Regions from separate parts of the Homo sapiens genome. Here all the other regions are reported to be linked to region 2. The links are microRNA targets in miRTarBase. Many come from high-throughput screens and were not tested one by one. Region 2 holds a microRNA gene; each other region holds the end of a gene's coding sequence.

Region 1 (5,089 bases), not on the chromosome of region 2:
TTAAATTTAGGAAAAATTATTTTAAATTCCAAAATCTTGTCAACTTATACTTCGTTTTGCATGTTTACTAGCATTTAGTTTATTTTATAAATCGTGACATACTTTCTCCATTCATTACATTCTCAAAACCTAAAATACTTCAGTTGATTTGATATGTTTTGCATGCTGACATAAGTCTATTTCCACAGTTTTCTGAATTTTAAAAATGCTTTTGAGTAAATATTTGTATACATATTTTTTTGTGCAAATAGTACTTTGTTGAATGAAATAGCCATAACATTCCAGGTTCTGCCTCATTGGGTCTCTAAGCAAACATGAATCTGAATACAACACAACTAGGGTCTAGAAAGAAAATTCAAGGTAAGCAGATGCCCTTGGTTCCTTTTCCTACTTTGTCGTATTCTGTTTTGTTGCAACTGTCTTGTAGTTTTTTAGGGAATGTGCTATTTATCCATTATTTCTTGAGATATGTGTTTCATGACATTTCACAATTAGAAATACGATGGGTTCAGTGTTTATAGGAGAGATGATTCTCGGGATACATACCTTTAAAACAAATCTTAGTATTCTTAACATCAAGAATTGTACTAAAATGTAATTTAGAAGGACGTCAAATTAATAATCTAAACTTTACATGTTTTAAGGTAAAGTTTTAATGAACTATCTCCAAAGAAATACTCGAAAAAAACCAAGGTTTTTAAACTAAGAAAATAGAATATTCAGTCTCAGTATAGCTGAAGTTAATATTTAAAACTGGTAACTACTTTCTTTATGTAATTTGGCAACAATTGTACTCAAAATTCGTACACTAAATATTTTTGGTACTGACACAATTTATAGACTCTTATTTTTGCATGAATATGTAGCTCATCTCATCAAAATTAAATGCAGCATGTTAAGTCAAATTTTATACTATAAAATTTGAATGCAAAAGGTTTCATTAATCCCAGTTGTCTACGTGTACATCGATTTTGTCATCAGATATCACAATGGCTTTACTTTTTGCTCTTGATTGTTTATATCTATATTAGCCTAATTTGTCTCCAATTGAATCTGCTTGACAGCTAATCTCTTCTAAACTCCTCAAGCCTATCAACTATTCTTGAACTAGGTGAATGCATTTCCATGCTCTATATTACCTTAATAAATTGGTGTATTTGTATGCATTTTTCATTGGGAGAAAATGTTTTAACTGTTTTTTATTTTCAGAGAAGAACTATTTATACAAACATGGGGACTGTGAAAAGAAAATTCTATAGTGAATTGTGAAAAGTGGACATATTTCTAAATTCATTCCACTGCCTTTATCCAAACTTAAGAATTACAGACATTTGTTATTCCTTCGGCAAGACATCCCCGCTGCACACTGATATGTTCATTTCGTAATTTGGTTGCTGGCCACCAAGTGCTCCTTAGTTTTTAAATACATTTTGAGATTAACTGGAAACTTGAAGAAGAAATTAGTTCCCGATTAAGACTATCCCAACTTTATTTTTATTGTCAGTTTCACTTTTGTTTCTATGTTGTTTTATGTCTTTGTTATATAATTGTACATTGTGTGATATGTGAAAAAAAAACACGAATTTGGATGAACCTTGTGTTACATGTACATTGTTTTCATTATATAGACAGCTTGAGAATAGTGCGTTCCTGAATGATTTTGAACATGCTACAGTGAAAAGTGACAGTGTGGACCATGGAATCACCAGCTAGAGGTTATGGACTATACACACCTATTATTATATTCTGATTAAATACAGGAAAAAGTAACAAGTAAAATTACTAGATTGCAATAAAAAAATTCATTTTTTGGTCTTTCCTGTATACCCCTGATTTCCTTTTTGTTTTATATCAAAGAAAGTACTGAGTTTCAGAAATCCTTTTTGAAGTCAGGTATTTTACCATTCATACTCTACAGTAGAAATGTTTTTGATTAAGCACTCAGCAATATGACCAAATTGACAGTTTGAGAAAATACCCTGCATGTCAGTACTGGATATTTGAGTTGGGAAAATATCCTTTTTGTTAGACACATTGTGAAAAGCATGCATTGTCAAATACTGTTGTTACTCTTCCATTTCTTTATGTCATATGCTTGCTACTTACGACTTTTTATATAAATATATATAAAATGTATAATAATTTCCTAATTTGAGTTAAGAGAAATGTTTTCTTCCATTAGAGTGATTAAAAAACTGACTCACATAAATACACATTTTATGTCAACTCTTTCCACCTTTTAGGGTACAGGATGTCCTTCAGTATTGAGGTTTACTTCCCAAAATATTTGGCTTCTAAAAGTTTAGGGGAATATTTTCTTCTTTTAGAATAGGGAACTCTTTTTAAAACTGCTTTAAAATCACAAGCCCTTTTATGAATTAAACCACCATTATGAATTATTCTTATTCTCAGGTACACATAATACACCTGAAAGCTTAGTGATTATGATGTGTTTAACATAAAGTAAAATCCTAAAATATATTTTACTGCTATTAAATTATATACACACTCTGTAAAGTTTGATTTGGTGAGTGGTTATTTTTTAAAATATTCAATGTGTAATCTTACAAAATAAATTTTTAAAATAAGAATTACTATCAGTATATATGCTTCCCAACATTTTCAAAACTACTGAATTCTCCAGGTTTAAAGAACTCTGTCCTTCCACTAACAGAGCAGTCTGGTCTACTAAAATTTGGACTTTGCAATTCAAGCAGGCTTTGCAAACTAGATGAATTACTGTTATACTTCCCTACTAGGAATACAATGTCATATATGTTAAAAAATAAGCAAATAGAAAATAAATTTTTATAATAGAAAAGTCAAAGAGTTATCATAGCCATTATAAACACTCTATCTTGAAAAAATGTCAAGCTACAGAATCACTTCAATGAATTTGATAAACTAGGGAATCAGAAAAGGTTTTGAACATGACAAAGATTATTTTTCATTGTTATGCTACATAGTTTTATACACATTGCTTATGATAAAATGTACCCTTTTTTATTTGGCTTGACTGGTTTATTTATTACCATGGTTCCTTTTTTGCCCTTTAATTTAAAATTAATACACCAAAGATTTTTTTAAAGGATTAATCATATCTTATATTGCTTTCTCCATTTAGAAATCTTCAGAGGACTCCTTTCCCTTTGAATGATAATCTCAAAAGTATGATATAACTGTCAAGATTTTTTATTTGTAACAGCAATAAAAATAGTGAAATAAGTTAGGTGAACATTTTACTATTAATTTGTTCTATAACTGTCCGGCATGTCCGTCCCCTCCAGTTTCTCCTGAATATACAGAATGCTGATTCCCTGCTTAAAAGGTATTTTCACCAGAAATCTACCAATGGGACTTTAAAAAAAAACACTAAATGAAGTATAATAATAAGAATGAATAGCTCACATATATTTAACACACAGCAGCTTCATGGGAAAACAACTGTATTTTAAATGAAGAACAGGCCTCCTCAGTGATAACTCTAAAATTTCTCAACAATGTACAGACACAGACTAATCATGAAAGAAGATAATGACGATGCTGGGCAGTGTCTGGAGGTAGCCTTTTCTCCTGGCATTCACTCTAGATGCTCAAACTTGGGAGTGCAGCGCTCTGGCAGAGTTGGGAGATGTTCTCTGGAGGGCTCTGGCGGTGCTTATTTATCAGCCAGTATTGAAATTTGTCAATATATCAAAAACGATTTAGTAGCTATATCAGACCTTATCACCTGAATGCAGCCTTTGGCCCACATTCTAAAGGTGGTGACACACATAGATAAGGAATGAGATGTCTCAAGACTTATAAGACATGTTATTTTAATAAATGATTATATTTTTTGATAAAGTGAATTCAAATATTACCAACCCAAGTGCTTTATTGATTTAACAAGATGATTTCAAATAATGCATTAAGTTAGCCTGCTGTGTTAATTTCATAAAGCTATTCTTTTTCATTTTATTTTTTCAAGTTTTCATTCACTTTTCAAAATAATGGTAGCATATAATCACATGCAATGCCAATGAATCCCCATATTAAGCTTCGTACTTCTGTCCAAATGTATTGTAGTTGCCTAATTTCAAGGTTCTAATTTGGAAATCTGATTTATTTTGTATGTTTTTATATACATACCAATTTTAAGCATTATCTTGCAAAGTAGACATAGGTGGTGTTTGATTTGCCATAATTAACTTGAATTTGATTTTGTAACCAAAATGTGGCTGTCCACATAATTGGAGATCAGTGTCTTTGGGCTTTTAATGGAGAACAAATCACATTGTGGTGTTGCTGGTTTTTCTGTTTCACATTTACTTTTGCTCTAGAAGTATTTCCGTGAGTCTGATGACTCCATAAGTTATGATCCTCAGTGTTAAGTAACTTAGACGGTTGGCATTACTTTAATATTCACTTAAGCTTCTGTATCATTTTTTTCTGTATTTTTCCCTTAGGAATTTAATTCGGGTCTTCCTCAAATTTTACAGCTTTAAAAAAATTCCATGAATGGGTTTTCCTCAACCTCAGAATATCATAATAAATTACAAGATATGACCCCCTGGTTCCTATTACCTTGATTAAAGTGGCGGCAATTAATTTACTGATGTTTTGTCAGTGAAATAAATAATAGCATCTTATGAAGTTTGTGTATCTCTGATGAAAATGAGTCATGTCAGATTCCCTCTCTGAAGGGAAGTTAAATAAACAACATTTTTAAAATTCTTTGAATTCTAAATAAATATGCTTTGAAAAGTGAGTTAGGGTTTTGTCTAATTGCACTGAGGCGAGCTAGCTTCGGTGCCATTTTTCTCTGTGCCCTTTTCCCTCCATGGATTCATTTCTATCTATTGCACTCTAGCGTAAAGGACCCAGCCAAGAAATTGTAAAATAGATTCAACAACAAAATAAACAGGTCTTGAGTTAATTATCAATCTCTATGCACTTAATTAATATTTCCCAAGCCCATCTTAAAGGTGTAATAAGGTAGAAAAATAAAAGTACACTGTTAAAATAGCCAGAAATGTTTTTATAAATAATCCTGCTAAATAAATCTGAGGCCCTTTGTTAATTTACAATTATGATTCATTTTATTAAT
Region 2 (5,089 bases):
CCCCCTTGCCTTTTCCAGCTACTAGAGGTGGCCCGTATCCTTGGCTCGTGGCCCCTTCCACCGTCTTTAAGGGCCCTTCTAGGGCAGAAGGTCAGAGTAGAGTGATTTGAAGAGGCCACACTCCTGGCCTTTTCAAATCTCTCTACTCTGACCTTCTGCCCTAGAAGGGCCCTTATGATTACACTGGCCCCCCCTGGATAATCCAGGATAACCCCTAGCTCAAGATCCTTAATTTAATCACATCTACAAAGTCCCTTTTACCATGCAAGGTAACATAGCTGCAGGTTCTGGGAATTAGCATGTGGGCATCTTGGAGTCATTATTCTGCCACACCTTCCAAGGAAGTCTCCTAAGCCGCTTAAAGGGTAACAATTCCATTTTTAAACAATCATCCAAAAGCCTCACATTTACTAATCACATACATGTTCAGTTCCAAGAACTTTCCTAGATCTTGAATTTATTGCCTCATTTGTCTTTACAACAACGCTGTGATCAAGATAATGATATCAGTTTTATTGATGAAGAGTCTGAAACCCTACCAACAGAATCCCCCAGGGAGTAAGTATCAGGCCCAAAACTCTGAGTCCCAAGAAAATAAATATCAATAGAAAAGCACTCTAGTGGTTGATGGTCATGGTGGCCCAAAAGTTCCTCCTAATATCTAGCCTGGATTGTTCTGGGCTTTTTATTGCCTGCATATTCATTAGATTCAGTCTTCAGGCTGCAGAGGGCTGAAGTGGTCACATAGGCTGACTTTTTGTGGAGGAAAAAAGCAAAATAATAAAAATAAGGCCTACCTTTCTCTATGTCTGAAACGTGAATTGAGTACCTTCTAAGTAAAGGGAAAAATATCAGATCCATGGCCTCAAAGCACAATCCCTGTTCTCATGGAGTTCAATTAATTGGGAAGACAAGTTGAAAATCTTAGAGCAGTGGTCTTTAAATATCAGTATATATTGGAATAATCTGAGGAAACATGTTAGAAATGCAAATTCCTTGATCCTGAAACCAGAGATTCTGATGTAGTAGATTTGGGATGGAGTCTGAGTTTTTAGCAAGCTCTGCCGCCAACCCCTAGTAATTCTGATACAGTTGATCCATGGTCATAGTGCGAGGAATCCTGCCATAGAATAGGTACAAGAGTGGCAGCTGTAGCCATTATAGGTGGACACCATGTGCACACATCTGCCAGATGCCTCATTCACTTGGGTTATTCCCTTTAGTTTGCAAGGAATGCCAGGACCAGCCAGGGTGGGGTCCCATGGGCCTGTGCTTGAATCCAGTGCTTGAACCTGGGCATAGGGTGTAGGGATAGGTCTTACCAGACACAAACAATTCTAAGTTAGGTTTTCTGCAACACTCTCATTCTGAAATATCTCTTTATTGGCCATTTGTCTTAACTGATAAATATATAGGACCAGTTTGTTATTTTGTCTGATTTTGTAGCTATAGCAGTATCGATCTTATTTTCCTAATTGTCACCTTCTTTTAAGAATCCTTGCTGCGGTAGGGGGCGGAAATCCTTGCTAAGCTTCTATAGCTGGGGGATTCTCCAATTAGGTCTAGGATTTTGTGGTCTCATATCAGTTTTTTGCTTCTGAGGTCTTTCATGGTACAGAGATGGGGAGAGTATTTGTGGGGGGTTGTGCCACATGAGCGAAGTCAGGGAGATGAGAAAATGCATGGATATATTCAGGAAATAATGAGTAGCCAGTTGGGTAAACATATCTATCCATCTAAGGTAGGGTGGAACACCTTGAGAATGGTCATGGGAATTTATTAGAAACCATCAACAAGTTGGTCTGGGGATCGAGAAGCTGAGTGAATGTGGCCTGTGGATTTCAGAGCAGTTGGCAGCAGTGCCAGAGTTCCGCGGTCTTGGGCCCCTCTTCAAGTCCTCGCCTGAGCCCGTGGCCCTCACCGAGTCAGAGACGGAGTATGTCATCCGCTGCACCAAACACACCTTCACCAACCACATGGTTTTTCAGGTGAGCAAGGTGGGCTGAGGCCCTGCTGGGGCATGCGCCCAGGGAGTTGTCCCAGGTCTGGCAGGTCCTGTAGGGTCATGGGTCCCCACACTGCATTGGTTGGGAGCCCAACTTGATGACAGAATCTGTCCCCAACAGGTCGGTCTCTCATATCTCTTGACTCGGGACATCCATGGCTCCCGATTGTCAGCATGAAGACAGGGAACCTGGGGCAGGGGGACTGGGATGGGAATCACCTTGGTCAATAGGAAAGAGGTGGGACCTCCTGGCTTTTCCTCTGCAGCATGGCTCGGACCTAGTGCAATGTTTAAGCTCCCCTCTCTTTCCTGTTCAGTTTGACTGCACAAACACACTCAATGACCAGACCTTGGAGAATGTCACAGTGCAGATGGAGCCCACTGAGGCCTATGAGGTGCTCTGTTACGTGCCTGCCCGGAGCCTGCCCTACAACCAGCCCGGGACCTGCTACACACTGGTGGCACTGCCCAAAGAAGACCCCACAGCTGGTGAGCCCCTCTCCAGATACCACCCTATCCTCCTGGGAGCTCATGGGGTCAGGAGGAGGTGGGCGGCTGGGCACCAGCTGTTTGCCTTCTATTAGAGCTTCAGCTCCTTGATTTCAGTCCCAAGAAGAAGAATAGCTGAGTCCCAAGTGCTCTTCTTTAAAAATTTTTTTTTTTAAAGAGACAGGATCTCACTAGAACTCATGACTTTCCTGTCCTACAAGGTGGCACCCTCTGTCCAGCTTTGTGGGATTGGATGGCTTGTTGCTGCTACTAATAACATAGCAGGGGCCTAGAAAGCAGGCTGTGACCCCTGCCTGCTTGTCCCCTGCAGGAGGAGCCCATCCCCTGCAGGCTGGGGACATCCTAACTACCCAGCCTCTCTTCCCCACAGTGGCCTGCACATTCAGCTGCATGATGAAGTTCACTGTCAAGGACTGTGATCCCACCACTGGGGAGACTGATGACGAAGGCTATGAGGATGAGTATGTGGTAAGATCCTGGTGTCAGGAAGCTCAGTTTTGTGCTGAGGCTGCAAAGCAACTCCCTTCAGGAACTGACAGTGAGACTGGAGCTGTTTTTGGCTTTTTAGCTCTTTAAAATTTTATTTTTTTATTTTTATTTTTTGAGATGAAGTTTCTCTTTTGTTACCCAGGCTGGAGTGCAGTGGCGCGATCTCGGCTCACTGCAACCTCTGTCTCCCTGGTCCAAGCGATTCTCTTGCCTCAGCCTCCCAAGTAGCTGGGATTACAGGCGCCCACCACCATGCCTGCCAAATTTTTTGTATTTTTGGTAGAGATAGGGTTTCACCATGTTGGCTAGGCTGGTCGCGATCTCCTCACCTCAGGTGATCCACCTACCTTGGCCTCCCAAAGTGTTGGGATTACAGGCGTGAGCCACCGCGCCCGGCCTAAAATAACTTTTTAAACTTATGGAAATACATGTTCATGTGTAAAAAGAAAACTTGGGAAATACAAAAACAAAATTCAAAACAAAGTATGAACAACAGGAAAACATTACTCATAATCCTTAGAGTTATTTTTGGGGGGAAGTGGTATAATTGAAATCATTCTTACAGTGTAGACCTTGCTATTTTAAAACCATAGTGTATTTTCCAGTATCATTACAAATACTTCATAAACACAATTTTTTTAGTGGATTTAAAATACTGTTATATACTATGTCAAAACTTGATTGACTTTTCACTCCTTTAATGTTGGGCATTTGGGTTTCCATATTTTCACTATTTATATTGCTGCATTAAATATCCCTTTAGATACAAATTTTTATCTGCATTTTAGATTATTTCTTTAGGATAGATTCCTAGAAGGAGAATAGTTGGGTCAAAGGGTAAGCATGATTTTAAGACATTTTGATTCCTCTTGTCAAATGCTTTCTGGATAAATTTGACCTGTTTGCTGTGCTGGGCAGTCCTTTCATGCACTGGAATAGCCCTTCTAAATTCTCCTATCTTAGCTCGGTGGAACTAAGTACAGGATCCTTCTGAGGTCTGACTTTGGGGCAGTGGCTCAGGGCCATCTGAGTGCAGACCATTATGCTCAGCCTGTGGATGGGGACTGTTAGAACTCCTCCTGACTAGAGGGACAGTCACAGTGGAATACAACTGACATTCGCCATTGTGTCATCCTAGAGTCACAGTTGAGGATGGATGGACCTTCCTTGAGCTGGAAATGACCCCGAGGCAGGAGCTGCTCTAAGACCAAGTGAGCTCCTTGAGAGAGCTGGGTCTGTTTGAGCCCATCCAGAGATGAAGAAAAAAAAAAAAGAGAGAGAGAGCTGGGTCTAAGTTGTATTTATATACACTGTAAACATCCACAGGAGTAGGGCCTCAGTGAAAATCTGATGGGAGAATGAATGGGGAACCTTCATGTAGACTCAGTGGGAGTATTATGTGTCAAGTTCAGGGAAGACACAGCTGAAATGGAGATAGAGATTCAGGATCTGTCAAATCCAGAGGACACAGCTGGGGTAGGAGGTTTCTGCTAGTTTCTGCTGAACTAGAAACAGCTGCTGGTCCTGAAGAGCTCATCATCCCCTAGGAGGGACAGGCATAGGAAGCAGACCTCTGAGAATGCTATGTAATTCCCTGCATGCCAGGTCCTGGAAGCACTGACACTAGGCAGGCTTAGAAGAGATGTGATCTCACAGCAGGCGGCTCTAGGCTGAATTAGTAGATTGGTACTTGGGATTAGGGCGTTTTCTGTTGAAGGGATACCATTTGCCTTTGGGCACCTCAAGGATAGGTACCTGGTCAAGTTGCTCTATGTCCCCAGAGTCTAGCACAGTCCTCAGTGCCGAGCAAGCACCTGTGGAAAGAGTTGCAGGAAGGGATGTGTGGATGAGTTCAGAGCAGAGGCCCGTAGGTGTGTAGATGGGTGCCTGATTTCTACCTCCATCTCTCCAGCTGGAAGATCTGGAAGTTACTGTAGCTGATCACATTCAAAAGGTCATGAAACTGAACTTCGAAGCAGCCTGGGATGAGGTAGGGGATGAATTTGAGAAGGAGGAAACGTTCACCTTGTCTACCATCAAGACACTTGAAGGTAAAATCCTGGGAATGCCATCTCTGGCCTAATT
Region 3 (5,073 bases), not on the chromosome of region 2:
TGTAGTGCATGGAGAGGGTGCCCAGAGGTGTTGGGGCAAAGAAGTCTCAGGGATTGGTGTGTTTTCAAGGATTTTATACATTTGGGAAATAGGAAGTATGTGGGGGTGGTTATTGTGACGGTAGTGTTCTGTTAATATCTTGAGGCTCCATTAATCACCGGTCTGACCATGCTAATGGTTTACATCAGGTTAACACTTTACACCTCATCACTCACCCTCCACAGCCCGATTTGTGCTGAGTTCTTGATCTTTTCTTTACCTGAGTGTTGCCATGAAGCGTGTGGGGAATCTCAAGTCGATTTAAAAATTTTTACATTTCCGTCTCATGGCTTCCCACTTTGCCCCAGGGAAAGTTGGAGAGTACGGCTACCTGGGTCAACCCAACGCGGTGCGCACCAACTTCACTACCAAGCAGCTCACGGAACTGGAGAAGGAGTTCCACTTCAACAAGTACCTGACGCGCGCCCGCAGGGTGGAGATCGCTGCATCCCTGCAGCTCAACGAGACCCAAGTGAAGATCTGGTTCCAGAACCGCCGAATGAAGCAAAAGAAACGTGAGAAGGAGGGTCTCTTGCCCATCTCTCCGGCCACCCCGCCAGGAAACGACGAGAAGGCCGAGGAATCCTCAGAGAAGTCCAGCTCTTCGCCCTGCGTTCCTTCCCCGGGGTCTTCTACCTCAGACACTCTGACTACCTCCCACTGAGGCGGCTCCAGCCCCAGACAACAGCCCAGGCATCTCCTTGGGCTGGGACTTCTTACCCAAAGCACATGCTTAGCTTATCTTTCTTTCCATTTACAGTCTCTTTCTTCCTTTCTAATCCTATCTGGGGAGCTCCTGGCCAGGATAATATATTTGCAGATAATTCTGGACCAGAGACTTGGTGCGGGGTTAACACCTTCATCCAGATTGGGTGCCAGCATACATTTTCTGGTGGGCCTTAACATCCCTCCTGCTTTTAGGAGAATTCACAGAACCTACTGTTCCTTTCAGATGACCTTTTGGAAAATAGTTCCCTTTGCCAACAGAAACATGCCAGAAGGAATCTTCTCATCTTTTATCTAACTATATGTACAGCTCTCCCCTCCCTTGTCCTTGAAAGTAGGATATAGCGAAAGGCGAGTCCAGGAGCTCAGGAAGAAGAGATGCACTATATGTTTACACAATTAATTCATCCCTTAATTTAAGTCATTTTCATGTGTGTGAGTTTGCTGGTTGTAAATACTTTGTCCTAAGAGATTTATCTTTATACAGATTTTCTAGAAATGTTTAGGTTACTAAAACAGGGTGGGCAAACTCTCTAAACTGGTACAATTTTATAGGTGAAAGAAAAAATTCCCTCATTTAAACCCAATCAGATGCCTCAGAGGGTAGCCTTGATTTGTTCTTACAGTTAAGAAGCCCTGCAGAGCACAAACTTCAGAAACCCGGCTTCCTGTGCTAAGTCTTTCCCAATCTCTACCCCTTTCTTCTCGGGCCACCCTCTGTTTAAAATTTGTGCTGGGTTATTCAGAACCTAAAAGTATTATTCAAACCAATTTCTTCCTTCCACAGTTATCTTAGCTGGATATAATGTATTTTCAGCTCAATTGTTAATGTGATGGATGGCACAATGAATGTATATTTTGTGTTATTCGTGAATAGTCTTTTGCATGTCGCACAATGTTTGATGTCCCCAAAGTACCACACTGAGTTCTATCAGTTATCCTTTGTGAGCCTATGATATTCCCCATTTCCTGTACAATCATGAACAGCTCTGAGATCCTGGAGTGATATGATCCAGAGCAGAGTTTACGGGTCTTAGGATGTCTGTAATAAATAAATATACTCAAGTTTCAGGTATGCTTAAGCATCCGTGTATTTGGCTGGGCTACAATTTGTTAATTCCTATGAAGTTGGCACATTTCATGAGGGGAAAGGGAGAAGGGTGGTAAATATTTTCAAAGAGATGGGCCTTTTCTTGAATAAAAGTTAATAACAGCTCCTTTATTATAATCAAAGCTCATAATGGAAAAAAAGACTGATGAAGAAATTTATGAAGCAGATTTATTTTTGAAACAAACATGGATACTTCCTGGGTCAAGTGCTAACCTTTTCACCTCCAACTGGATGTTGACGTATATATAAACAGAACTCCCTTCAAAAGCCAAAACTGTCTTCAGTCAGTCTTTCCTCACATCAGTGAACCAAGAGCTAAGAGATTCACATTTAATTAGCTCCAGTATAAAGTTGTTGTGAGGATGGGGCCCTTATTCCACTCCTCTTCCTTCTTTTTGGATTGTCAGGCAGAGTTCTGATATATTCCACCCTTGAAATGGAGTGTTTTTAGTAAACCCTTGCATCCCTTCCCCCATTCTTCCTGTCAACATCCATCCCTTCCTGCGGCTCTTCACCCCTTCTTCCCCATCTCTGGGTTGCACATCTTATTCCCTTCAGACTCAGCTTTGATTTCATAGCCGTCATGGCTGTAAAGGATCCACAGTTCTAATTCCATGCCACATAACCCAGAAAAAAAAAGTCATTTTCTTCTCTGGGCTCCACAGGTACTTCCAGGTGAACTTGTGGAAGCTACCCTGAAGTCTTTCAATATCCAAGTTGTTTCTGACCAAGGTATGTATCTGCTCTCAAAAGAGGAAGCCAGCAAATGATAGAGTTCAAAGTGGCTCTCCTCCCAGGCCTCTTTATTGCTTTCCTTTACTTTCACACATTTTTGGAGGCATTTTATTTAGCCCAACAGTACAGCAGAAAATTTACAGCATTGAAAACAAACACAGACAGATGACTTCCTTCCTCCCCAAAGGGTGTTTTACAAAGGACGGGCTGGAGGAGAAAAACCCTACAAAAATTTGGAATTTGCAGGCCGTCTAGGGCACTTGTGAGAATTCCTGCACTTCCCTGTCAAAGAAGAGAAGGCTGAACTTTGCGGTGCAGTTGCTGCGGCCATATCAAGGGCACCGGGTGCCCTCCCCTCAGCTGCTGGGTTCTGAGGTTGCCTGTAAAAGACTCAAGTGGATGGAGAAGAACTTCAAAGACGGTCAACCCTTTCTTTCATTTCCTGCCTGGCCTTATACTGTATCTTTTGTTTATTAGTGTAGGGCCACACAGCAAAACAGATGGCTGGCTTCCAAATACTTTAATGTGTTAAAGTGTCATTTGCATGCCATTGACTCCATTTCAATATCTAAAAGCAGGGCGAGATCCACTGGAATCCCAGAGATTCCAGTCTTTAAGATGCTGGTTTTAATGTAGCAGCAAGAGAGAACAATAAATTATGGCTAACCATCTCTAGCTTTCTCTAGGTCATGGAATAAATCAGTTAACAAGCAATGCATTTAGGAAACATTAATACACCTTTCAACAAGGAAAACATTTGTATCTTTTTAGCTGTCTCAATCGATTAAATCAAAGGCGCTTAACACATCCTATTTCAAGGTCTCTCTGCTTTGGTCTCTAAGGAGCACAGTTAGCTACTTGAAAAATGACAGCAATGGTAACTGAAACAACACAGAGTGGGAAAACTGAAAATAACATTTTATTGATACATTTACAAAGGAAACAAGGGTCTCAGTTAGGCACCTGGGATAACTGCGATACAAAATTCTAGTTTTCCAATGTTTTTTTCCTCACTTCCTCTACATTTATCCACAGTACTCCCCAAATACAGAGTGTTCCCAAACTAGGCTGAGTTGAGGTCTTGCTTTGGCTCTGAAGTCTGCTCTGGGTTTCACCTTTTAAAGTTTACTTTTGGAGGCTATTCAAATGCGGTGGTGTTTTCCTCTGGGGCAATCAGATTCAAACCGATCAATATTTACTCAGTCTGAAAGGGTTGTTGAAAAGGCTGCTAACAACAAACTGCTTAGCTGCTCACCCCTGTTTAATCTCAGGTTCACCGAAAGTTCAAGAAGAGATGAATGCAGTGATGGGTCACTTTAGAATGAGTCCCAGCAGTTTATCTGAGCTCTCAACTAAAGGCAACAATTATAGTTCCATCCCTCTTTGGAAAAGGGGCAACTTTCCTATTATTCTTTTGCTAAACAATGTTTACTAGAAACTTAAAACACTTTCCTCTCCCCTCTTGGTTCTTTTCTTTTCTTCCTTTTTTTCTTTTTTGTTTTTTGTTTTTTGGAAGCTTCCAGCTGCCCTTCTCCTGCCCCCTCCTCTAGTTTTCTGCCAATCCATTCAGTTTCATTTGACTTTAAATAAATCACATCAAATATTGTTAAAATGTTAAATTAGTCTGACAGAAGATATCTGATTTATTTCAGATGCCACAAGCTATGAAATGAAGCTCTTTGGGCCATTAGAGTTTATCTTTGTGAAAGTACAGGGCAAGATTGAATTGAAATCCATTTGTGTTTGAGTAATATTGACAATCAGAGCCCCAATATCCATCTGAGATGGCTGTTGAGTGGGAAAGGGGGGAGGGAGAATTGGCTTGCGCAGAAGCAAATACCTCAGGTGGAAAGTCAACTTTTAAATTTTACGCCTTCTTAATGCATGAAGTATTGAGAGATGAAAAAGGAAGACACAAGGAAGCCAGTGGGGAATGGTGAGTAGAAGATGCTAGACACTGAAGCTAATTGCTACAGCTCTTCAGAGGTCAAAGTTCATGTAATCACTGCATAAATGCATACTAAATAGGGATTTATTAAGCTTTCCTGATGGCTGAGCACGTCTGTGAAAAATGGTCACTGCTGTTTGTGTTTCCTCCTTAAGAATAATCATTCTTAAAGCAGAAGCTCTAGGCATTTCAGGCTTTAATTTATTTTGAGAGACAGGCAACTCCTGTGCTTAAAAATACTGAAATTAGTGCATGAACAACATCTTTCTTTATATTGGATGGGGCTGTAAAAGAAACGCTATGGCTTTTTCAGTACATACAAGAACACCCTTTAGTTAGCATGCCACTATTGGGATAAGCTAGTCACTGGTCAACTTTGGTGACCCTCTGCCTTAGATAAGTCCCCTTTGTGCCTGCATTTGTGAGAACACACAAAAATTCTGCCTTAGGACTCCTTGTGCCTAAATGACCAGAATTGAATGGGACCCACATCCCTAATCTCTCACTCTATGGA
Region 4 (5,000 bases), not on the chromosome of region 2:
TGGCTAACTGCCTGCAAGGGAGGCTGGGAAATGTAGTCCCTGGCTGGGTGGCCCCTTCCCAGTGACAGTTTCCTACTACTGAAAGGGAAGGACAGATCACTTGCCATCCCTGCCACACAGTTTCCTCCTCTGGAAACTGGGGGTGATGACCCCTGCCCTACCCACTTGTCATGGCATTGGGGACATGAACACACTTTGCACCTGTCAGGCAAGGCTTAAACAGGGATATGCACTGGTAATAGAAAAGAGGGACTAAGTTTTGTTTTGTTTTGTTTTGTTTTGTTTTGTTTTGTTTTGTTTTGTTTTGTTTTGTTTTTCTGAAGAAGTCCCTAGAAGCGCTCAGTGTTGGAATGCTCTCTTGTAGCAGTGGCGGCTGCTGCTGGTTCCGGGTCAGATGCCGGAATTGGGGGTGCGCTTGGGTGCAGCTGCATTTCATCTGGTCCTGGGCCTCGGTCCTGGCTTGGAGAGGTGCAGCTCACAGCCACTTCATGGCTGGGATCCCTTCTGTCCCAGACAGCTGAGGAGACCCTTGGCCTCAGCCTGAGTGTCAGGGGGGTAGTTCTGATAACTCTGTGTTTTGTTCACAGGAGCAACCAGGGTTTTATGCACATGAAACTGGCCAAAACCAAAGAGAAATACGTTCTGGGTCAGAACAGCCCTCCGTTCGACAGTGTCCCGGAAGTCATCCACTACTACACCACCAGAAAGCTACCCATCAAAGGGGCTGAGCACTTGTCCCTCCTCTATCCCGTGGCTGTGAGGACCCTGTGAGCGGACCAGACCTGCCCTGCTCTGTGACAGAGCCTGAGACTTGGAGGTGCCAGAGGCCCCCCACCAACCAGCCCAGCCACTGTTGCTGGCTGTGTCGTTTGTGTTGTGTGTATGGTACTAGCACACCACTGCATGTCTCTAGAATGCTGTTGCCACTTACGGGGGCTGGAGAAGGCCTGGATAAAGACAGAAGGGCGGCAACACACCACCCCAGCCCCCACCCCCACCCTCTCCTTGAGTTTCTGTGAATTAAAATATTTGCAAATCCAAAGAGATGCCTTCCAGGATGAACAAAGGCAGACCAGCTCCGAGGGGCGGGGTAGGGTGGGGCGGGAGCTCCCTGGCTGACATCTCTTTGTTCTCCAGCTGTCTCAAATTCACACCTCTGTACAGGGCAAAGTTTTCCCACAGGAGCCCCCCTACTGATGCTGGGAGCCAAATGCTGGTGCTTTGAGAGTCCCGGAGGCCCCGGGGTTCCCGCCCCGCTGGTGTGTATATGTGTGTCTGTGTGAGTGTGTGTGTGAGTACAGATGTGAGAAGGTGGTCACACACAGATGGGTAAGCCCACTGATCTACTTGTAGTCACTCAGTGTAATCATTAGGCTATCTTCAAGGAATCATTGTGCAGTCAAAAAGAGGATTCAATTATTTATGAATAGGGTGTGTAAATAAAATAGTCATTTAATATATAGCCTTATCCTTTTTTGATATACTGCAGAGGGTCTCTGAGGGGGCAGTTCTGGTTTCACTCCCAGAGCAAGGCGTGTCTCCTCTGGGCTTGCTGCTGTGGCAGGCCCCAGGGAGGGGAGGGAGGCCGAGGCCTCAGCTCCAGCCCTCAGCAGCTCTGGACACAAGAGCCGTCTGCTCTGACAACTGGGCTGAGGCAGTCGGTAGCACTCTGGGAGTCAACCCAGAGCTCAGAGTTCAGGCTTCAGCAGTGGACATAGTCAGGAGCCTCCAGTGTTGACCAAAAAACCAGTCTTTCCCTCCTGCAGTGGGACGTCTGTGTTGACACCCCCCCAACCCCTGGACACAGCACCCAGCTGGCTACAAAGGGCTCTCTCCCCACTATCTGTTAGCACCACCTGGGAGGTATTTGGCATGTAGGGAAAGGGAGACAGAGAAGGAACGTCATTTGCCCAAAGCCACACAGCTCACCAGCAGCAGAGCGGTTCTGCAGCCAATGCTCTTTCGTTGGTTCTGCATGGCCTTGCTGTCACCCTGCCCATGGAGGAGGGAGAATCCTGACCTCCCAGGGACATAGAGCCCTCAGTGGTCCACACTGCTTCCACACACAAGAACACCTACACACACACACACACACACACACACAGCCCTCAGTGGTCCACACTGCTTCCACACACAAGAACACCTACACACACACACACACACACACACAGCCCTCAGTGGTCCACACTGCTTCCACACACAAGAACACCTACACACGCACACGCACACGCGACCTCTCTCTTGCTTGCCATAGCAGGGTCCTCCCACACAGGCCAGGCAGCCCCGATGAGGCTAAGAGTTTCTCAGCTCTCCTGCTTTTTCCACCCACCCAGTAGCATGAAGATGTGGCTGCCCTCTCCTGAATGAGATACAAGGGTTCCAGAGCCTTCGCCAGGCACCAGCTGGTCTGAATGAACTAGAAGTTTGACGACTGTCATCCCTGGCCCACCTGGGCAGAGCACAAGGGGCCGAGTTTGAATGTCATCAGCAGGTTCAGACATCAGCGCTGCTCATGTCTTTAGAGACTGTTTGGAGGTGGTTCCAGCTCACTGTTCACATGCAGAGACACAGGCCCGGAGAAGGAGGACTCGCCAAGGCCACGTGTCGAGCTGGGACTGAGCCCTGCCCCTTTAGGTAGCTGCGTGGACTTCAGCGGTTTGTGCAAAGCCCTGCCCTTGGTGACCCGCCTTTAGTGACCAGTCTGCCTCTTGGGTCTTCCTCCCAGGCCTTGTCTGGCACGTCCACGTGGCCCAGCCCTCATAGAGACCACGCTGGCTGTGGCCTGGGTTTAATCTCTTAAAGAAGCCAATCCTTTCCTTGCCTGTTTGGCATTTCCTAAAACATCCCTCAATGAGGGAGGAAGGCAGGGACACCCTGGAACGATTCGTGCTTTCCTTTGGGGGAGTGGGAAGGTAGGTGGGAAATGACAAGATGAGTGAGGAGTTGGCACTTGGCCAAACAGAGGAGCCTGGACCCCAAGGCTTATTCTCAGAGGAGGCCCAAGAGAGGCTGAGGAAGAGGGGGAACAACCCTCCGGCGGGGGAGGAGGGTGAGACCTCACACTGGCAAGTTCAGGTCCAGCCACTTCCTGAGGCTGCTGGGTGGGGCCGCACCTCACGGTCCTTCCCTGTAGACCATCTTCCCGGGCACATTGCTCCTCAGAAAAGGCTCTGGGAGGGTCTCAGTGGAAGCTGGCAGCTGTGCCCTCTGGCCCTGACTTGGCCTCTTAGGGTATTCCTGGGACCCTCCCTCTGTCCCTGGCCTTCGTCTTCCTGAAGTTTCCCTGGGAGGCCCAACCTCCTGCCCCTCTCAGGGACAGAGGCCAGCAGAGGAGCCAGCTTACAGGATGGGAGCTGCTGAAAAGAATTTTTTTCCCTTAATTTTATGAACCTCTCCCTCTTCTTCCTCTAATTGTGACCGTTTCCTGTGTCAGCCTGTATTCATGTTTTCTTGGACATCTAACAATTGAAACAGCTTTTCCCTTTCAGAAACACTCACATTCAGGTTACTGGCTTTGGTTTGGTTTTTGTTTTGGGTTTGTTTTTTTTTTTTTTCATCTGCTGCCAATTAATTGGGGAAAAAATTGAGCTGGATTTCTTTGAGAGAAAAGAAAAGCTCCTGCCACACAACGTCGCGCCCTCGGCATTTTGTCTGAGAACCTCCAGCACTAGCGGCTGTTTCTGTGTCTCCCTTCTTTGCTGGCTTTATTATTGACCATAATGCCTGCCCACTTGAGCAACTCTGTCCTTGAGCGCTGAGGAGTCAAGGGCCCTTCTGGCAGCCCCCCAAACAGGATGGCGCCCACAGAAAGAAAGGAGGCTTTGTAGGGGAAGAGGGCCCCACCGCCTGCCAGTCCCGTCCTGAAGTCAGAAGAATGGCCCAGGCTGACACCCTCTCCTGGAGAGAGGCTCACAGCGTAGCTGTTCCCAGGAAAGGGGTGCAAAGACTCCGAGGCTTCAGGAGGCAGGCCCTGTCCTCACAGGGCGGCTGTGGGCCGGGGCCCCTCTGTGGCCTGAGAGTGAGCAGGAGGGAAACCTGAAGCAGCTACCCGCAAGGCGTCCGGTCAACAGGGTGGAGCTGCAGGCTCCCTCTGCCCATTCCCAGAACCAGCGGCCCCCTTTGTAAGATGCTGAACACGAAGTTCCGGTAGCTCCCCAGACGCTGTCTCAGAAGTGGTGATATCATTGACCAAGGGCCTGGCAAGGACCGGCAGCCAGGGTCCCCATTTGCTCTTGCAGCCCTAGGGACTGTGCAGGTAGAAGCCCTGCCAGCAGAGCAGGCTGGCGTTTGGTGTTGGCCCACAGACACCCGTGAAGGGTCATGGCCGAATCAGGCAGCTGTCCAGCCAACTGTCTCTCCACCCTTCCAGAATTGGTGATCAGCGAAGACCAAATTCGGCAAGCCATCCAGAGGGAGTGCAGGGCGCACAGTCTTAGATGTGGGCGCACCTCCCAGAACCCCACGGGGACTTGTTCACAGGCGCGCTTGCAGGAGGGCAAGCCCCTTGGTCCTGGAACACAGGTGCCCCTTGGCCTTTCCACCTCCCTCCTTGGGGCTGTTTGCATCCCTGCCAGGAGCCTTAAACCAGCCACCTACTGCTGAAGTCTCTTGTAACATTCCAAATCTATGTGACACACTGTATAATGATGAATATTTAATGTGAAGCTCTTAATATACTACAAGTGTCTTGTTTACCATTTGTCTTTTTTTTTTCTTTCTTTTTTTTTTGAGACAGGGTCTTTCTCTGTTACCCAGCCTGGGGTGCAGTGGCACAGTCTCCACTCACTGCAGCCTTTGCCTCCCAGGCTCTGGTGATCCTCCTACCTGAGCCTCCCACATAGCGGAGACTACAGACATGCACCACCATGCCCAGCTAATTTTTCCATTTTTAGTAGAGATGGGGTTTTGCCATGTTGGCCAGGCTACTGGTCTCACTCCTGGGCTTAAGGGATCCTCCCACCTTGGCCTCCCAAAGTCCTGGGATTACTGGCGGGTGCCTG
Region 5 (5,089 bases), not on the chromosome of region 2:
CTGGGTTCAAGCAATTCTCTTGTCTCAGTCTCCTGAGTAACTGGGACTAGAGGTGCACACCACCACACCCAGGTAATTTTTGTATTTTTAGTAGAGATGGGGTTTCACCATATTGGTCAGGCTGGTCTCGAACTCCTGACCTCAGGTGATCCACCCGCCTCAGCCTCCCAAAGTGATGCGATTACAGGCGTGAGCCACTGCACACAGCCAATTAGTTACCTTATTAAGATGATTTGTTTTGTGCCAATATTGCTCTTTTCTTCTGAATATAGGTACAAATTCATATTCACAAAAACACACATACTTTATAATTTTCTTACCCTTAAGGTTTATCTTTAGAGTAATATATGTGTATATTTACATCTATGTAAATAAAAATTAAGAGTCTGTATGTGTTTGCAGGCAGTAAGACCACATGTTTAAAGAAAAATATTAACAAATTTTTAAATGTTTATTCAGAATTCAGAAATGTATGGATTTTATTAATACTTCTATACAATTCTTATTATGACCATAAAACAAAATCATGACCAAAATCTTGCCACTTGCCAAAGTGGCCAGATGGAAATAGACATTCCATGCAAATTGGTTACTGTAACCAATAACAATTGCACATTTCAAAAGAACTAAATGTGTAGAATAGGTTTGTAATACAAAGGGTAATGCTGGAGGTGATGGATACTTCACTTACCCTGATGTGATTGTTACATATTATATGCCTGTATCAAAATATTCTATATATGGTATAAATATATACACATACTATGTACTCACAAAAATTTTTAAAAATAAGTTCATATAAGAAAAAAAGAATAAAAATTTAACCTACAAGAACAATATTCTTTAACCTATTTGCAGTTTAAAGCCACTGGCAAAAGAGATGTTAGTTCATTATGTTACCAACCTGCACACTGTAACCATCTTTTAACTACATTCTTGAGTACGGTAGATAGGTTAAACTTAGTGGCATCACAACGCATCGTTGAATGCACAATGATCATAATATGTTTAAAAAAGTTTAATTATAAAACTAAGTTTACATGTAGTCTGAAAATTTAAAAACGTACTGCATTTTATTACATAGAAATATAATTAGTAAAATAATATATTACTAATTTTAACTAATATTAAAAATGTTTTTCATTTACTATAATGCAGAAGAATATTACTCTAAACAACCACCTCATATATCACTCAATATTATGTTAACCACAAAGAGCCCCACCACTTAGATTTTCATCATGCATCTTACGTTTTAATGTTCTTATTCTTTTTTTTTTTTTTGGTGGTACAATGGTTATTTTTTTCTTTTTTTTTATTATACTTTAAGTTTTAGGGTACATGTGCACATTGTGCAGGTTAGTTACATATGTATACATGTGCCATGCTGGTGCGCTCCTTTTTTGTTTTTGAGATGGAGTCTCGCCCTGTCACCCAGGCTGGAGCATACGTAATAGTGTACTTCTCCTTCTCCCTCTCCCTCTCCCTCTCCCCACGGTCTCCCTCTCCCTCTCTTTCCACGGTCTCCCTCTGATGCCGAGCCGAAGCTGGACTGTACTGCTGCCATCTCGGCTCACTGCAACCTCCTTGCCTGATTCTCCTGCCTCAGCCTGCCGAGTGCCTGCGACTGAAGGCGTGCGCTGCCACGCCTGACTGGTTTTCGTATTTTTTTGGTGGAGACGGGGTTTCGCTGTGTTGGCTGGGCTGGTCTCCAGCTCCTAACCGCGAGTGATCCGCCAGCCTCGGCCTCCCAAGGTGCCAGGATTGCAGACGGAGTCTCGTTCACTCAGTGCTCAATGTTGCCCAGGCTGGAGTGCAGTGGCGTGATCTCGGCTCGCTACAACCTCCACCTCCCAGCCGCCTGCCTTGGCCTCCCAAAGTGCCGAGATTGCAGCCTCTGCCTGGCTGCCACCCCGTCTGGGAAGTGAGGCGCGGCTCTGCCTGGCCGCCCATCGTCTGGGATGTAAGGAGCCCCTCTGCTCAGCTGCCCAGTCTGGGAAGTGAGGAGCGCCTCTTCCCAGCCGCCATCCCGTCTAGGAAGTGAGGAGCGTCTCTGCCCGGCCGCCCATCGTCGGAGATGCAGGGAGTGCCTCTGCCCGGCCGCGGCCCCGTCTGGGAGGTGAGGAGCGTCTCTGCCCGGCCGCCCCGTCTGAGAAGTGAGGAGCCCCTCCGCCCGGCAGCCACCCCGTCTGGGAAGTGAGGAGTGTCTCCGCCCGGCAGCCGCCCCGTCCGGGAGGGAGGTGGGGGGCCCGCCTCCGCCTGGCCGCCGCCCCGTCCAGGAAGTTGGGTGGGGGGGCGCCTCTGCCCAGCCGCCCCTTCTGGGAAGTGAGGAGCCCCTCTGCCCGGCCGCCACCCTGTCTGGGAGGTGTACGCAACAGCTCATTGAGAACGGGCCATGATGACGATGGCGGTTTTGTCGAATAGAAAAGGGGGAAAGGTGGGGAAAAGATAGAGAAATCAGATTGTTGCTGTGTCTATGTAGAAAGAAGTAGACATGGGAGACTTCATTTTGTTCTGTACTAAGAAAAATTCTTCTGCCTTGGGATGCTGTTGATCTATGACCTTACCCCCAACCCTGTGCTCTCTGAAACATGTGCTGTGTCCACTCAGGGTTAAATGGATTAAGGGCGGTGCAAGATGTGCTTTGTTAAACAGATGCTTGAAGGCAGCATGCTCGTTAAGAGTCATCACCACTCCCTAATCTCAAGTACCCAGGGACACAAACACTGCGGAAGGCCGCAGGGTCCTCTGCCTAGGAAAACCAGAGACCTTTGTTCACTTGTTTATCTGCTGACCTTCCCTCCACTATTGTCCTATGACCCTGCCAAATCCCCCTCTGCGAGAAACACCCAAGAATGATCAATAAAAAAATAAAAAATAAAATAAATAAAGAAAAAAAAAGAATAGTATACTTTTTTTTTTTTGAGATAGAGTCCTGCTCTGTTGCCCAGGCTAGTGTGGAGTGGTGCGACCTCGGCTCACTGCAACCTCTGCCTTTTGGGTTCAAGTGATTCTCCTGCCTCAGCTTCCCGAGTAGCTGGGGTTACAGGTGCGTGCCACAGTGGACAGCTAATTTTTGTAGTTTTTAATAGATGGGGTTTCACCATATTGGCCAGGCTGGTCTCAAACTCCTGACCTCATGATCTGCCTGTCTCAGCTTCCCAAAGTGCTGGGATTATACGTATGAGCCCTGCGCCCAGCCTAATGTTCTTATTCTTTAATAGAAAAGGTCATAAATAATGACCTAAGAAAAAAAAATCTCCTATCTTTGATGTAGCAACCACTGATCACATGCTTTCACATGTGAATATAATAGCAATGAAGAAGAAAGAGCATGAAGTAATTTGAAAGTTGAATGACATGATTATTTTCTTTTCAAAAAAACCTAACTTTTTTAAGGAAAAAAGTATACTTTGAATGTAATTAAAACTCTGCAAAAAAAGTTCTACTTCTTTTAAAGTTATATACAAATAATTAATCCACCAAATTTAGTTTTGGATTATTTTCTATACTCAGCACTCTGATTTAGTGTGGTGTCTGAAGTGCCAGCACCTTAGATATTTCTACTGTGAATCCTCTGATATTTACATAAACTTAACTTTGGATTAAATATATTTTTATATCTACTGCATCTGCAAAAATATATTTTAGTATGAATCCTCTGCTGCTTTTTAAGCTGTAGTTTTTGAAAAAGTTTTTCAAAATTTGTTACATTTGCAGGGTTTTTCTCAAATATAAATCCTCTGATGTTGGCCAGGTGTGGTGGCTCATGCCTCTAATCCCAGCACTTTGGCAGGCTGAGGCAGGTGGATCACCTGAGGTCAGGAGTTTGAGACCAGCCTGAACAACATGGAGAAACCCTGTCTCTTCCAAAAATACAAAATTATCCAGGCGTGGTGGCACATGCCTGTAATCCCAGTTACTCAGGAGGCTGAAGCAAGAAAATCGGTTGAACCCGGGAGGCAGAGGTTGTGGCGAGCCGAGAATGCGCCATTGCACTCCAGCCTCGGTAACAAGAGCGAAACTCCGTCTCAAAAAGAAAAAAAAAAAAATCTGATTTTAAACAAAATTTAAGCAACTGCTTCAGGGGTTTCCTCTAGTACAAAATCTGTACAATAAGATTTGTGATACAATTAAAGGTACTACAACCCTCTTTAAATTTGCAATGTTTGTCTTCAAAATGGTTACTCTTTTTCACATTAAAGGCTTATATTTTCTGAATGCTTTTGACAGTAATTCCATTTATAATGCTTTTATTAAGTACTTTCTGATGCTGAGTAAGATGTGAGCAGATATTAACGGCTTTTCCACATTCTTTATATTTGTATACTTTTTCTCAACTAAAAATTCTTTTCTGTGCAGTAAGGTGTGAGCATAAATTAAGTTTTGCCACATTGTTTGCACTTGTAGTTTGTTCCAATATGAATTATCTTACCTAAAGTGTGACAACCATTTAAAGACTTTGCCATAGTCTTCACATTTTTAGAATTTCTCACCAGTATGATTACTTTTATAAGTCTGAGGTGTTGTCAAAATTATTGTCACATCTTTCAGGTTAGTAGTTTCTCTCCAGTATAAATTTTCTTATGTTTAGTAAGACTTGTAAATTGATTAAAGCTTTGCCATAATTTTCATATTTGTAATTTTTCTCCGGTATGAATTATCTTATGTTTAGTAAGGACTGAGGACCATTTAAAAGCTTTGTCACATTCTTCACATTTGTAAGGTTTTTCTCCAGTATGAATTCTCTTATGTTTAGTAAGGTTTGAGGACTGGTTAAAGGCTTTGCCACATTCTTCACATGTGTAGGGTTTCTCTCCAGTATGAATTTTCTTATGTTTGGTAAGTTTTGAGGATTGGTTAAAAGCTTTGCCACATTCTTCACATTTGTATGGTTTCTCTCCAGTATGAATTATCTTATGGATAGTAAGGGTTGAGGGCCATTTAAAACCTTTGCCACATTCTTCACATTTGTAAGGTTTCTCTTCTGTATGACTTTTCTTATGTCTAGTAAGATTTGAGGACTGGTTAAAAGCTTTGCCACATTTTTCACATTCATAGGGTTTCTCTCCAGTATGAATTTTCTTAT
Region 6 (5,089 bases), not on the chromosome of region 2:
CTAAAAATACAAAAATTAGCCAGGTGTGGTGGCGGGCGCCTATAATTCCAGCTACTCAGGAGGCTAAGGTAGGAGAATCGCTTGAACCTGGGAGGCGGAGGTTGCAGTGAGCTGAGATCACACCACTACACTCCAGCCTGGGTGACAGAGCAAGACTCCACATCAAAAAAAAAAAAAAAAAAAAAAACTGAGAAGCTATATATGTAATAATTTTAAAGTGAATTGGGTATTTTTCTGATGAGGAAAACCAAGAAGACTAAGTGATTTTCCCAAGATTACATAGTGGTAGAGTCCAAACTAGAACCCAGATTGTCCACCTTCTGGTCTGCTGTTCTTACTCAAGCCTGGAGTAAGTGGGAGCACAGAAAATACTTTCTAAGAAGGAACTACAATGATACCACCACCACATATTTACAAAATATATCCCTATAGCATTATCTCATCTGATTATGTAACCATCACTCTGTGGCTACGGAATTGGAAATGGTCTTCTAAATTCCATGAGGATAAGAGGTGATAATGGGGGCTTGGTCCACTGTGCTAGCTTCTTACCTAATCTTTGTCTTTTCAATTCTGCCTGCCCTCCACTCTCCCATTTCTGTTGCCAGATCATCCTCCTAAACACCAATCAGGCTATGTTACCTCCAAATTTCAGAGGTACCCACTACCTAAAAAATGCTATCTAGCACCCTATCCCCAGCGGAATTTTTTGTTTTTATGACATAAGATTTTGCTTGAAGTGATCCAAAGAGTAAAAAGCACAAGAAACACTGGACCTGGGTGGCTTCCCGTGGCCCTGCCGATTCACAGCAGCCTCCCTTCTGCTGACAGCTTATCAAGAACTACCTGTGCACACACCCCTGTAGGACTCTAGTCCCTACTCCCTCTGCTTTGGGTTCCTCTAGCACAATCTAGCTCCTCTGCACCTGAACACACTTTTGGTTTTAGCTCATGAACAGGCTTCCTCTTCAGACCCCTACGACCTGCTGATGGAATGGAGTAAAACAAGCAAAGCACCCTTTTAATAAATTTCCTCTTGCCCAGTTTCCATTTTGGGGAAAATGTATCATAAAATGTTTTGTTCTTCAGCTCCGTGTAAGTGTACTAAATGTTATCTTCCTCATAAATTCTACCTTTTCATTTGAAAATCCAAGTATTTACAGCCAAATAAGTCAAAATACAATCTGCTGTCTTGTTATTTCTAGCCATCAACACCCTACTAAAAAGCAGGGGGAAATGTACTAAGTCAGAAAGGACCGCCCAATAGGACATTGAAGTTTTTGGAATCTGAAGTTAGAGGGCATATATTTCCTCTTCTCAGATTGATTCAGAAGGCATGTGTGTCTTCTCCCCCACCCTACCCCATGTACTGTACATTAGCTGAAAGGATTTAAATCCTTGTATCCATAGCCCTAAGGCTCCCTGTTTTCCTGGAGAACTCCCCTTGCAAAATCTTCTTGGTGGAAAGGAAGCTCAAAGACCAGAATACTAAAATAGGACTTAAGCAACTCAGATTCTATTAATTCCTAATCATTTGTGGTCTCTCCTAGTCTGACAAAGTCTCTGACAACCAAAAATGAGAATTGTCTGCTCCTTCCTTAAAAGTTACATAACAAAAGCCTGGGTATCTTAAAAAAAAAAAAAAAAAAAAACTCAAGCGGAATTCAGAGCTTAAGAGATATCATAAAGGCCAAACTTACAGAAAAGGCTTATCCCGAAGGAGGCAATCATAATACACACATAATTACAGAAGCCACACAGCTGTAGGCAAGTCTGTGGGAGAAGTACCTTTCACTACAGATTACAGTGTAAGAATGTCCCAAGGGAGACAATTTTCTTTTATGTGCTGTCTAGATTTAAACAATTACTCCATTAGAAAGCTTATCACCAATAAAAAAAAAAAAAAGTCCCTACTCATTCTCCTTCCTTCCTGCACTGCCTGAAGATATAACTCTATAAAGTATAACTGAATATAAATAGCACTGTTTATGAAGCCACAATGGCAAAAGAAACCACAAAAGTGAGGAACATCAAGAATTTGCTAACATTTATTGACGAGCCCAGGCAATTACTGCCAAGTATTCAAAGCTTAAATGATGGTACTAATTTGATTGAGAGTAGTTTTCAGCATCTTTAAAAACAAAAACAAAAACAATTCCCGTAGAACTAACCACTCTAGAACCCATGAGATTAATTGGTATAGAAATGAAAAAGGGAGCCTAAAGCCTTTACGATGTTTCCTGAACAGTTTAATTATAACTCAACCTCACCTAGCTTTTCTTTCCCTTTATAAATTAACATTTCCATCTCACTTGTCAATTCTTCTACTTATATCAACTAGAAAATAGAGAACTATTGCTTATAAACACCTAAACCTATTAAAAAACTAAACCTTTTTACACTTAGATTACAGAGAAGAAAATTATTTAGAAATTGGTTTTCAAGGAAATTGTATATCACTATATTTCTCTGATATACAATTATGGGAAAATATTTCCTCTTAGAATTCAAACATATTGCCAAAGCCATTTACAAGTCTTTCAGTATTTGGCAATGAAGAATAATGAAAAAAGTTGGATAGATGTCACACAGTAATATTAGTAACTGATTTGGCAGCTCCCCTCCCAACAACAAACACATTGAAATTACCATAACTTCTGAAAAGAAAACATTTTCATAAAATACCAAAAGTGGTGAGTATTTCATAATATTCCCCCAAATACAAGTAAGAATGAAGGTATTCACTTAACAGGCTATTGAATTTCCTTCGGACAGTTTAAAGATCGGGACAGGTAAGCCTGGGGCCTTCTTCATTCTAAGCAGTAGCTTTAACTTCTTTATCCATTACCCATGGTACTATAGTAATAAAATATATATATATATATATTTTACATCAGAATACACATAAACATATATACCTAACAAATATATATGCATATGTAACTAAGTTTTACCAAACAATACTTACTCAAATATATTTTCTGTTCTTTACAAATTCTTTCCTTTTCATTTTTTTCAACACCAGTCATTGTCATCTAACTTGATTTCATGTGAAGAGCAAAAACCCAGTCTGAAAAACACAGGTCTGAGGCAATCTTATACTGGAATGCCGGGACCAGGGCAGATCCCAACCCGGTGCTTGGGAGTCCTGCCTGTGTCTCAGGAGCCATCTAGAGTAAAGGCAAAGTACAGACAGACCCAGACCCCGCCCTGGGTAACCAAAGCTGCTCAGCAATTATCTTGGCATTTCACGTAAGACTTAACCTACAGGCAGGGGGCAAAAAAAGTTCTCAGTTAAAAAAATCAAGTTTTAAAATCACTGAGTTACATTACCTTTCCGGGTCCCCTTCCAGTGTATGAGTCTAGAAATAAGTATTCATTATAAACTATAAAATAAGCCACAAATTACTATAGAATCAAAACTGTATCATTAGATCACAAAAACTTTAATAGTCAAAGCTTTGTAATTTATAATGTTAGAATTTCTCAACATACTGTCTTGATTACAAGTTCTGATGGCCAGGCATGGTGGCTCACGCCTGTAATTCCAGCACTTTTGGAGGCCGAGGCGGGCAGATCACCTGAGGTCAGGAGCTCGAGACCAGCCTGGCCAACATGATGAAACCCCATCTCTACTAAAAATACAAAAAAATAGCCAGGCGTGGTGGCAGGTGCCTGTAATCCCAGCTACTTAGGAGTCTGAGGCAGGAGAATCGCTTGAACCTGGGAGGCGGAGGTTGCGGTGAGCCAAGATCGCGCTATTGCACTCCAGCCTGGGCAACAAGAGCAAAACTCCATCTCAAAAAAAAAAAAAAAAAAAAAGTCCTGACGGCACCTCAGCCTCCCCTCAAATTCCCTCCCCGTCCTGCAGAAGCAACCCTCCAAGACTTCTCCCTTACTAAAAGTACACTCTTCTTATAGTCTTATTAATAAAACAATGTTATAATTGCTAAATGTAACACATTACCACATAAACACACTAAGGCACGCCGATTACTAGGCTCCTTAGACAGTGGTCAATTTGAACAAATTGATGTTCCTAAACCAAAAACTCAGCAGCTTTTTTCATTCATAAAAACATGTATCTTCCCGCTGGAATTACCTCCAGCCAAAATATACCGAGTTGGGTGCATGGCATTGATGGAACACACAGAGACAAGGTATTCTCCACCAAACGAATGCACCCTCTTTCCTGTCTCATGGAAGATTTCTACCCGTCGTGGATGGGCCATGCTGCCAACTATGACACAGTCTTCTTGTTTAGGATCCCACATGGCTTGGAACCTGGTCAGCCATCGCCCAGTGAAAGTGTTGTGCCTAGTGAGGAAAACAATATATTTTTTAAATGAAGTAAGGTTAAATAAGGTAGCATTGGGCAGAGGGTAAAGACGGCATTGCTCCTAAATGCTAGTTTTCTCTGCCAAGTTTCTTCTCATTAAGTTACTGAGTTACCACCAACCTTACCTCATCCTTACAGGACTGAACCTCTGGACAGAGACGATATCCTCCTCATCTAAAAATCTCCCAAAATAAAACATATGGAGCCCTTTATAGTTCCCAAAAGCAAAAACAGAAGTACTGCCCTTTTAGTCTTTTTGCCTTAATATCACTAACAATCCTTTTTCATTAAAGTATGGACTACACATTTCCCACTGCCACTTAAATGACCCCATCATTAATGAAAATTCTTACCCCCTAGAATAGTCACCCTACATAAATTTTTTAAAAATATACATAATATGGCCAGGCACAGTGGCCCAAGCCTGTCATCCCAGCACTTTGGGAGGCCGAGGCAGGTGGAACACCTGAGGTCAGGAGTTCGAGACCAGCCTGTCCAACACGGCGAAACCCAGTCTACTAAAAACACAAAAATTGGCCAGGTACAGTGGCTCACACCTGTAATCCCAGCACTTTGGGAGGCCAAGAGGGTGGATCATTCAAGGTCAGGAGTTCGAGACAGCCTGGCCAACATGGTGAAACCCCGTCTCTACTAAAAATAGGAAAATTAGCTGGCCATGGTGGCGGGTGCCTGTAATCCCAGCTCCTAGGGAGGCTGAGGCCGGAGAATCACTTGAACCCAGGAGATGGA

Evidence for each region. The annotated mature microRNA hsa-miR-6826-3p reads CUCCCCUCUCUUUCCUGUUCAG and lies in region 2 at 2,301-2,322, shown strand. An mRNA with a match to its seed (bases 2 to 7 or 8) in the 3' UTR can be bound and repressed. Matches are read on the target gene's strand: a 7mer-m8 pairs with bases 2 to 8, a 7mer-A1 pairs with bases 2 to 7 and ends in A, and an 8mer does both.
Region 1: the mRNA of NETO1 is a reported target of hsa-miR-6826-3p. Seed matches in the 3' UTR shown: 7mer-A1 at 2,305-2,311.
Region 3: the mRNA of HOXA1 is a reported target of hsa-miR-6826-3p. Seed matches in the 3' UTR shown: 8mer at 1,908-1,915.
Region 4: miRTarBase lists SHB as a target of hsa-miR-6826-3p. Seed matches in the 3' UTR shown: 7mer-m8 at 1,573-1,579 and 7mer-A1 at 3,826-3,832.
Region 5: the mRNA of ZNF85 is a reported target of hsa-miR-6826-3p. The part of its 3' UTR that is shown has no 7-base or 8-base seed match.
Region 6: the mRNA of WDR76 is a reported target of hsa-miR-6826-3p. Seed matches in the 3' UTR shown: 7mer-m8 at 3,843-3,849 and 7mer-m8 at 2,618-2,624.

Annotation. Positions count from the first base shown.
Region 1 is chr18:72,744,285-72,749,373 of GRCh38, reverse strand. It overlaps NETO1 (neuropilin and tolloid like 1), which reads left to right. Exons shown (of 11, transcript NM_138966.5): 10 at 286-360; 11 at 1,210-5,089. The coding sequence ends at 346. Among named protein-coding and RNA genes, the nearest start is that of MIR548AV, 110 kb to the left of the region's middle.
Region 2 is chr3:129,269,922-129,275,010 of GRCh38, forward strand. It overlaps MIR6826 (microRNA 6826), which reads left to right and starts at 2,225; the gene lies at 2,225-2,322. COPG1 (coat protein complex I subunit gamma 1) reads left to right here. Exons shown (of 24, transcript NM_016128.4): 19 at 1,846-1,988; 20 at 2,323-2,494; 21 at 2,886-2,983; 22 at 4,917-5,055.
Region 3 is chr7:27,090,070-27,095,142 of GRCh38, reverse strand. It overlaps HOXA1 (homeobox A1), which reads left to right. Exons shown (of 2, transcript NM_005522.5): 2 at 348-2,150. The coding sequence ends at 703. Among named protein-coding and RNA genes, the nearest start is that of HOXA1, 3.4 kb to the left of the region's middle. RefSeq lists enhancers at 55-555, 556-1,056, 2,645-3,555.
Region 4 is chr9:37,915,592-37,920,591 of GRCh38, reverse strand. SHB (SH2 domain containing adaptor protein B) reads left to right here. Exons shown (of 6, transcript NM_003028.3): 6 at 588-4,694. The coding sequence ends at 771. Among named protein-coding and RNA genes, the nearest start is that of SLC25A51, 14 kb to the right of the region's middle.
Region 5 is chr19:20,949,845-20,954,933 of GRCh38, reverse strand. It overlaps ZNF85 (zinc finger protein 85), which reads right to left. Exons shown (of 4, transcript NM_003429.5): 4 at 4,237-5,089. The coding sequence ends at 4,632. Among named protein-coding and RNA genes, the nearest start is that of ZNF85, 29 kb to the right of the region's middle.
Region 6 is chr15:43,865,356-43,870,444 of GRCh38, reverse strand. WDR76 (WD repeat domain 76) reads right to left here. Exons shown (of 13, transcript NM_024908.4): 13 at 2,033-4,317. The coding sequence ends at 4,053. Among named protein-coding and RNA genes, the nearest start is that of WDR76, 41 kb to the right of the region's middle.